2 linked regions of the Homo sapiens genome follow. The protein of the gene in region 2 interacts with the protein of the main gene of each other region in a biochemical or structural test. Each region holds a gene or a part of one and is shown on either strand. Other genes may lie near its edges.

The links.
Region 1: of the proteins of CCDC186 (region 2) and FBXO7, one has a biochemical effect on the other in vitro, tested with the Homo sapiens proteins (one large-scale study listed by BioGRID).

The regions. Positions count from the first base shown.
Region 1 is NC_000022.11:32,484,811-32,488,626, reverse strand, and holds part of FBXO7 (F-box only protein 7), read right to left. Parts: intron 3,560-3,816; coding exon 3,418-3,559; intron 883-3,417; coding exon 799-882; intron 1-798. UniProt on the Homo sapiens protein: Substrate recognition component of a SCF (SKP1-CUL1-F-box protein) E3 ubiquitin-protein ligase complex which mediates the ubiquitination and subsequent proteasomal degradation of target proteins and plays a role in several biological processes such as cell cycle, cell proliferation, or maintenance of chromosome stability.
Region 2 is NC_000010.11:114,171,123-114,175,648, reverse strand, and holds the start of CCDC186 (coiled-coil domain-containing protein 186), read left to right. Parts: upstream 1-1,445; 5' UTR 1,446-1,634; intron 1,635-2,383; exon of another isoform or gene 2,384-2,508; intron 2,509-4,526.

The sequences.
Region 1 (3,816 bases), on a different chromosome or scaffold from region 2:
CTAAAGGACTGCTATAAATGCCATCTTCCCATTGTACCACAACATTCCCACTAGGCTCTTAAAACCCTCCTAAGTTTACTAAGAAGATTAAATGGAATAACATATGTACAGGCACAAGTACAGAATGAAACAGGCACTTAAAAAATGTCAGTTCCCCTCTCCACCTTATCTCTTCTGCTCCAACCACCTATAACTGCCTCTCACAGTTTGGTTTAACTGAAAAATGATAAAAGGGAAAACCTGTCTTCTTTGTATCTATTAATAATTTTATAGAGTTTAAGCAAAACCTTACCTAGAATGCAAACCTTTGGTAAAGTATCAATCTGTATAAAATAGCCATCAAATTTATATAGGTTTAAACAAACATTTTGATTGTAGTTTTTCCTCCAATAATCTTCAATAATGAACTTGACATTGAATTACTTTCATGAAACACAGATCCCCTCCATATTGGTTAAATACCAATATGGAGATCTCAATAGGGAGATCTCCAAAGATTAGTACAGAAACTATGAACTATCATCAGAGTGTAATAAATTACATACTAGTGTTATCTCATAACAATATAATTCAGCACACTATGACCCTAAGAAAAACAGGAAAGAAACAAACTCCTCAAATTATAAGCAAAACTTTCACATTTTTTAAACCTTTGCATTCTTAAACAAACCACATTGTCTTCAATATGCTTTAATCTCATATAGAAATTTTCAGTCTTTTGAACATTATCTTTCAGATTTTTTTCTTATATGAATTTCACAGAGTTTCACCCCAAAAGTTAAATAATGTTTGTATTACCTAGTTTCTCTTTGCAAATAAAAGATTCTGGTAGCAGCTGCAATCTTTTCACACTTCTAATCTCATTGTTGATTTTTAGTGTAGCTGTAAATAAACAAAAGAAAGATGATAAAGAATTCTGTCACTTCATCAACTGCCTTTCTTTTTTAGTATGGGCTTGCATTTCCTAGCTCCTAATATACTAAGGACACATTATACAAAACAAACTGTTCTTCGCCTATTTCTTTCTCTGATAGCAAGTTCAAAAGTGTAAACCTGGCATCACATGAAGTAAAATCACTCTACAACACCACCTTTAAAAACTACAGTAAGCATCTTTATATAAAATCCACTAGGCAGCAGCTTATTAGTAACTTAAAGATATGCAACAAGGTTAATCAGAGGCAACTAAACACAATAAAATCATTATTTCTAATGAAGTCACTAAAAACTCCATTTATTTTTTATTTAACCCTTGGCAATGAGTCTTCCTTTGTTCATTAAAATAATCTTGCTAGTTTTCACAGCATCATCTCTCTTCCAGACCCAAAGGATAAATATACTTGACATCACCAGAGGGTTCAATTTTAATCATGTATACAAAGGCGCACTTCATCTCATTCCATGAAAGAGCCCAGTGATGTGCTTATGCACATGTGCACCAAGCAGGATGCCTTGGGTGAAGGAAAGATTTAAAGACACACTGCTCCTTTTCAAAGAATCAATCCTGGAACGGCTGGCTGCCATGCAAGTCTGCCAAGAGCTGATTTGCCAAGAACAGTAAAGAAACAAAACATCAGAAATTAGGAAATCATCAAGACATTCAGCAGTTATTCTTTTTATATTAAGTATCCTGAATCTAGTGAATAGAGGTTATTATACACGTCATTAAGTGCTTTTATAAAAAATCAAGGCAAAATTTGCAACTACACATTTACTATTTGGTAACTCCAACCTTGCAAGTTATGATGTGATGTAGCAGAATGATTAGATGAAGGCAGAAACTGTTGACACTCTGTGTACAAGAATGCCAAAGTAAAAGCTACATTTGCTAATTATGATGAACTGCTGAATAGACATTGCTAGGTCCTAGTGTCATCAGACAGTCATGTCCTGACAAATGTGAAGTACCACCAAAGCTATTAAACCTAGTTTTGAGACTTTTAAATAACATTTCAAAGAATCTTATGACTAAAGAAATAGAAATTTCGTAAGAGGCCAGGCATGGTTCACACCTGTAATCCCAGCACTTTGGGAAGTCAAGGCAGGAATATTGCTTCAAACCCAGGAGTTTGAGACCAGCCTGGGCAACACAGTGACACTTCATCTCTACAAAAAATAAAATAAAAAATAGCCAGGTGTGGTGGTACACGCCTGTGGTCCTAGCTACTCAGGAGGCCAAGGAGGAAGACTGCTTGAGCCTAGGAGGTCAAGGATGCAATGATCCATGCTCTGCCTACTGCACTCCAGCCTGGGCGACAGAGCAAGACCCTGTCTCAAAAAAAAGAAAAAAGAAACTTTGTAAGAGGGGAATGAGAACTATCCAACATGTCAAAGATCAAGATGGCATGAGTCAGTAGCTTTCAAAATAGATTTTAGCAGGAAAAAAAAAAACCAACATTTTTTCAAACAGAATCTTACACAGAACTTCAATAAATGAAACAGATAAACATTTTGCTGCTCAAGGTTTAAGTGGTGATAGGGCTTCTACCTAACTTTCATCTCAGCAGAAAGGAGTAGCTACAGAACATACTGAAAACCTCTGACCTAAACCTTTGACCTAAGGCTTACCAAAGCAACTGCCTTTGCTAAACGAAAAAGATGAGCTATACTGAATAAAAAAACAACAAACGCAGCCCTCCCAATCTTACCACGCTATCTTTCTAACTAAAAGGATAAATCTCAAAAAACAAAACAGAACAAAAATGAAAGCTCCTAGTCATTCAAATGGATCTCCAGTATGTGTGATTATGACAGAACACTAGGAGTTGATATGAAACAAAGTGGTACCTGAACTAAAACACAGAGATGGAATGCATTGCTATTCCAGTGAAATTTCTTAATATGAAAAATAAACAGGAAAAGTTATTCATACAGAGTGACATTTGTTGGGGGAGGCCCAGCAAATAAAACACATACTTACTAAGGCCCCAGTAAACTTAGCATTGTTGTTGTGCATTGCTGGTCACAGGGATGCCAACTTGGATAAATGGTGACCCCAGGTCTAGCTCCCCATGTCTCAGTTCAAGACCTTCGTTAAAAAAATAAAGCCATCCACAGGCATAAAGAAAAAGTATTCTCCAAGGAGTTCATGTGTAATAGGCTCATTTCACTCCTATTATCAAATACTGATAATATTGGATAATATTAAATATTATCCCCCAGAGCAAAATATTACAAAGATTAAGACATCAAAAAAATGGATGCCCTAAGAATGAAGGGTGCTGGCCTAAACAACTCAACAACCTCATATTCCATGATCTTCCAGACACATGTTATCAGTGGCCTAGGAATTAAATACAGTTGAGAAGGACTCACAACTGTATCATGATAGCCAATCACTGAAGTGGCTATAAAACATTTGGAAAGAAACGTCTAAGAATCCATAAACCAGCAACCATGACTATGCTATCCAATTACCATTTACAACAATCAGGTTTCCCAAAGGCACACAGGTGAGAGTAGCGGAGCTGCCCTCGCAGAGAGGATGCATGTACTGCAGCTTATACACCCCGCTCAACTTCCACTTCTCCGGCATGGACAGTGCTTTGGCTTCGGTGCCCTGGGGAACGAAATGAAAGGGAAACAAATAATGAAGAAAGGTGTTACTCTCAAAAAGATTAAAAATCCAAAAGACTCCTAACTTGTTTGAAATAATCACTCCACACAGTCCTCTTAATAAAATGCATCAAATCATTAACATTGCCAATATATTTTATATTGTAGGATAACCATATTGTATAAGATAATATATTAGAACACTTTTAATCAAAATTTTTGTTCAAATAGGTAAAACTGCATCATGGAAACAGGGATTGA
Region 2 (4,526 bases):
CTTGCATATTTCTTGCCCCTACTGGGAATCAGCACTTAACCTCCAAGAGAAGCCAAGGTAACTTTTTTTGGGCAATGCTCTTTAGAGATCACAATCTGGGGAATAGGAGTGTGCAATGGGTTGGTCACTGTTCTAAGAGTTTTCAGTGGACACACCTTTTTTTTCACGAAAAAAATGTACCATGAGTTAATTCTGATATTTGTAAATTCAAATATAGGATTGCAGAATTTTAATATAATGTCTTTGGTTTATATTTGTATTTCTTTTCTCTTATGGTGAAAAACTTGGTTCACAAAGATATATTTATATACTTTATACTAATTATAAATTCAGAAATATTCAGAAATAGTAATACCTATGTTATTACTGACGAGTACCGAAAACAGCTTAAGGTTTCTTCAGTTTTTTCCCCTTGGATTAATGTCTCCCTAGGAAGGCTTGGTCGATTTATTGTTTTAAAGTCAAATCATTTATTTTCTATGACAAGACACTTTAACTGCAAAATGTGCTTCAGTGTAGTACCTTCATTTAAGGAGGAGTGAGGTGCCATTACACCTCCGTGTGTGTGTTTTGCCAACAGTATCGAAGACGCTTAACAGAACAGTAGTAAGTTTTGCTTTACAAATTCTTACATTGCAGAATCGTCTGCATCAGCTATTTTCATTCATGAGATATGTGTAAGACCTAAACCAAAGAACATCGTTTCCCCGGACTGAGGAGGTTTGCGAAACCTCCAGAGACTGAACTGCTGACCTTCCTTCTCTGGGCCGGGCGAGGCAACTGTACCCAATACACTTTTTGTTGCCATGCTGCGTGCCAGGTTACTCAGCCGGGAGAGGACACTTCCTACCATCAATGCGCTCAGCTTGAAGCCAGAGACGAAGGCACCGACAGTTTATTATTAAACAATGGCAGCAGCGCCACGCTGAAGACACGAACGCGCTGTTATGGAACCCCCAGAGGTCTCCCCCATCGTAGCCTGCTCCAGCCGACTCCGCCCACGTAAGGTGCAAGGTTTCCGCATGAGAGCCGGGAAGCCACAATTTCAAATTCTCTTTTATTGCTTTATGTCCCTGACTCATGCAGGCCAAAGGGTGAGGAGGAGTAATAGCCAACAAGAGCGTCCTGCAGAAAGAAACAGGCTGCGTGGGTCCGGAGGAGCTTGAAAGGAAGAACCCGACCAAAGGGCAGGAGACCCGGCTCTCCAGGTCGCGGAGGCGTGGGTGCCCAGCCAGGCGGAGTGCGGGGCGGGGCCTCTCGGGCCGCAAGGTGGGGCCTCCTGGGCCGGGAGGTGGGAGGTGAGCTCCGCCAGCCCAGCCCACTGCAGACAGGTTACCCAGGACCTCAAGGTGTGCTGCGTCACCCCGCCCGCGCTGCGCTGATTGGTTCCTCCAGGGAGCCCCCGCCCCCTCAGCTGTAACCGGGCCGGCTTCAGTGTCGCCGCCATCTTTGTTGATGTGTCAGCTCCGCAGGGGTTTGGGGAAACGGCCGCTGAGTGAGGCGTCGGCTGTGTTTCTCACCGCGGTCTTTTCCTCCCACTCTTGGCTGGTTGGACCCCGCTATGGAAAAGTTGGCCCCTGAGCCAGAGCTCCAGCAGCCTTGTTAGGGCGTGGCCTGAGGCTTGGATAAGTGGGGTAAGTGTCTGAGGGGTACTCGGGGCACACCGGTGAGTCGCGGTGGCGGTGCGGTGGGGCTGCCAGCCTTCCGCTCCTTCCTGCACGTTCCGTGGCGGGGGCGAGGGCGAGTGCGAGGTGGAGGTCGAGGTCGAGCGGGCTCCCCGCCTGGCTCCTTTGAGGGCGCGGAGGAAGGGGAGGGCTGGGGAACGGGTTTCAAGCCCTTTCCTCTCCCTGCCTTCCTCCTTCGGTTCCGGGACCTTGGAGGTGGCAAAGAGGGGTCAGCGGGGGTCGTGGGGGCTGTGCCTCGAGAGCGTCTGAATTCGAGCCCATTGCCTGGGCTGCGTGTGAACTGCAGCCAAGCCCTACCTGCTCGAGAATCTTTCCTAGACTCAATCGCCTATTTCGTTTTTCGTCTCAAGTTGACTGTATGTGGGTGTTTTATATTTACTGTTGTGAAGACTTGTTACCCTCTTCCAAACACTTCCATTACTGTGATTCTAAGTTCCTTAGAAGTGATTCTTTGGAGTGGTGGATACTGTTCTTTATGTTGTCTTTCAAGGACGTCAAGGCATTTCATAAACCTTGGTTGGTAAGGAAGGGGTTTCAGATTTATGTCTCCATCAGTAATGAAAAATGGCAAAAACAAAACAAAAACCCTTCTACGTGTCCCTAAGTAGCAATCTTGGGAAACAGTGCAGGTGTGAGTATTGCTTAGCTGTTAACAGTTTAACAACTTCACCTAATATTCCCATCTTGATTTTGTTTAGAGGAAAAAGTCCTGGATTTCGAGTCAGAACATCTGGATTAGAATCCTACTTCTTTCACTTGATAATCTTGTTACCTGTGGAAATCAGAAGAGAGAATATAGTAAAAATACGCAGTACAGTCCCAGGTACTTGGCCGTTTTCTCTGCATGTGTGTCATGTTCCTTTGATGCCCAGCTTTTTTTTCTTCCAAAACGATAGGCCGGGTGTTGTCTTCTAAGGTGTTCAGTAAATCAGGGTTTCAAGAGGTGTGCTGGTAGTCATTCAGAAGAAATTAATCTGCTATTATCTATTTAGGTATGCTAGTTGTGGGTGTGGCTTTCCCAACTATCAAGTACACCTTAATATTTACCGAGTGTTCATCTCGTGGGAAGGATTCAGGTTCAAGAGAGATTGATAGTGAAACTGAACTATCTCTGTGTGTAATGTACACTGTTCCCTGTGTAACTTCAATTCTTTATCCAACATTACACAAATAAAAAACAGTAATGATTGGCTAGGTTCATTTTTCTCTTTTATTTCTGGTCTTTTCATGTTATTTTTAATGCAGTGAAGATATTAGATCACGAATCTTGCAGTATTAAGAATTAAAACTTTTTACAGCATAATAGGCAAACGTATGATTACTGAAGATTCTCCCTGGAAATGCATGGATTGTGTTTGTTTTTTAAAGGCCCTGTTAAATTCAGAATAACTGCATATAAACTTAAGGTTTCTTTAAACAGTGGAGATTCCATAGTGTGTCATTGGCTTTTGAGTCCTATTTATTGCTAACGGAAAGGGTTGGCTGGTGTGTATCACAGTGACCACTCTAACCTTTTAGTTCTTTCACCCATAAAGTAGAGTTGTCCTTTAATGCTATGCAGTGACAGCATAGCTAATGATTGCTTAGTATGTTCAGTTTAGAAACATCTATTTGCAGCTTTATGCTGACATCACAGAGTGAAGATAAAAGCATTGCAGTATACTGACTCCAGGAAGAGACAGTAGGTTGAAGCACAAAGCAGCTTTATTTGGAGATTTAGAAAATAATCTTTCCCTTTGAAGAAGGACTGGTAATCTGCACTAGTTTCTCAAATTCATGCAACAGTTTCGTGTTAAAGTAAGAATCCTTACCCTGAAATTTTTTTTCTTTTAGTAAAACTTAGGTTTTTCTTTTATCTCTACCTTAAAATAACTAAAGCTGGTTTTTCAATTTCTCATAAACATATCACTGAGTTTACAGTATTGCAAATGTTATACTTAGTATTCATTTTAGGGGCAGCAGTGAGATCATAGATAATTTAATCTATTGTTTCAAACTGCTTTGAACTTTCTTAGCTACTGAGATTTAAAAAATGTATTTGGGCTAAAAAGTAAGAAAAAGGAAAAATACTGAGATGAAGGGACAGTAGACACAAAGTGGAAATCAGCACCAGCATAGTTTTGATTGGATTGTGAGTGTATTTCTTATTAACATTTGTCTATCATTAAGACACTTGAACTGATAATTGTGGGATTATGTAGACTATGTAATGTCTACCGCACTTACTACATAATCCCACGGTAGACTATCAGTTCATGTTTTTAATAAAGTAGAGCATACCAAATTAACCAACTCTGGCCAAAGGTGTCTTCAAAATTTAAACATTAACCCAAACTTTTTAATGTAATGCAGGCTTATAACTTGAAAAAAAATTTTTTTTAAAGATACTAGGCTTCATTTTGTTTAGTTTTTTGAGACAAGATCTCAATCTGTCACCCAGGCTGGAGTATAGTGGTATGATCATAATTCACTGTAGCCTTGAACTCCTGGTCTCAAGCAATCCTCCTGCCTTAGCCTCCTGAGTAGCTAGGACAACAGGCACAGGCCACCATACTAATCTTTTTAATTAAAAATTATATATTATTATTTTTTATAGACCAGGTCTTGCTATGTTTCCCAGGCTGTTCTCTTAATTCCTGGCCTCATTTGATCCTCCCATCTAGGCCTCCCAAAGTGCTGGGATTACAGGTGTGAGCCACCTGTAAAGGAAGGCCTGAGAGCCTTCCTTTTTGAAAAAGGAACTATAGGTCAGATTTTTTTTTACCTACTTTATTCCTTTTCAGATTTGGAGGAAAATTAGCTGATAATACTTTTCATGTTTTCTTAGACTCATTAAAGTGC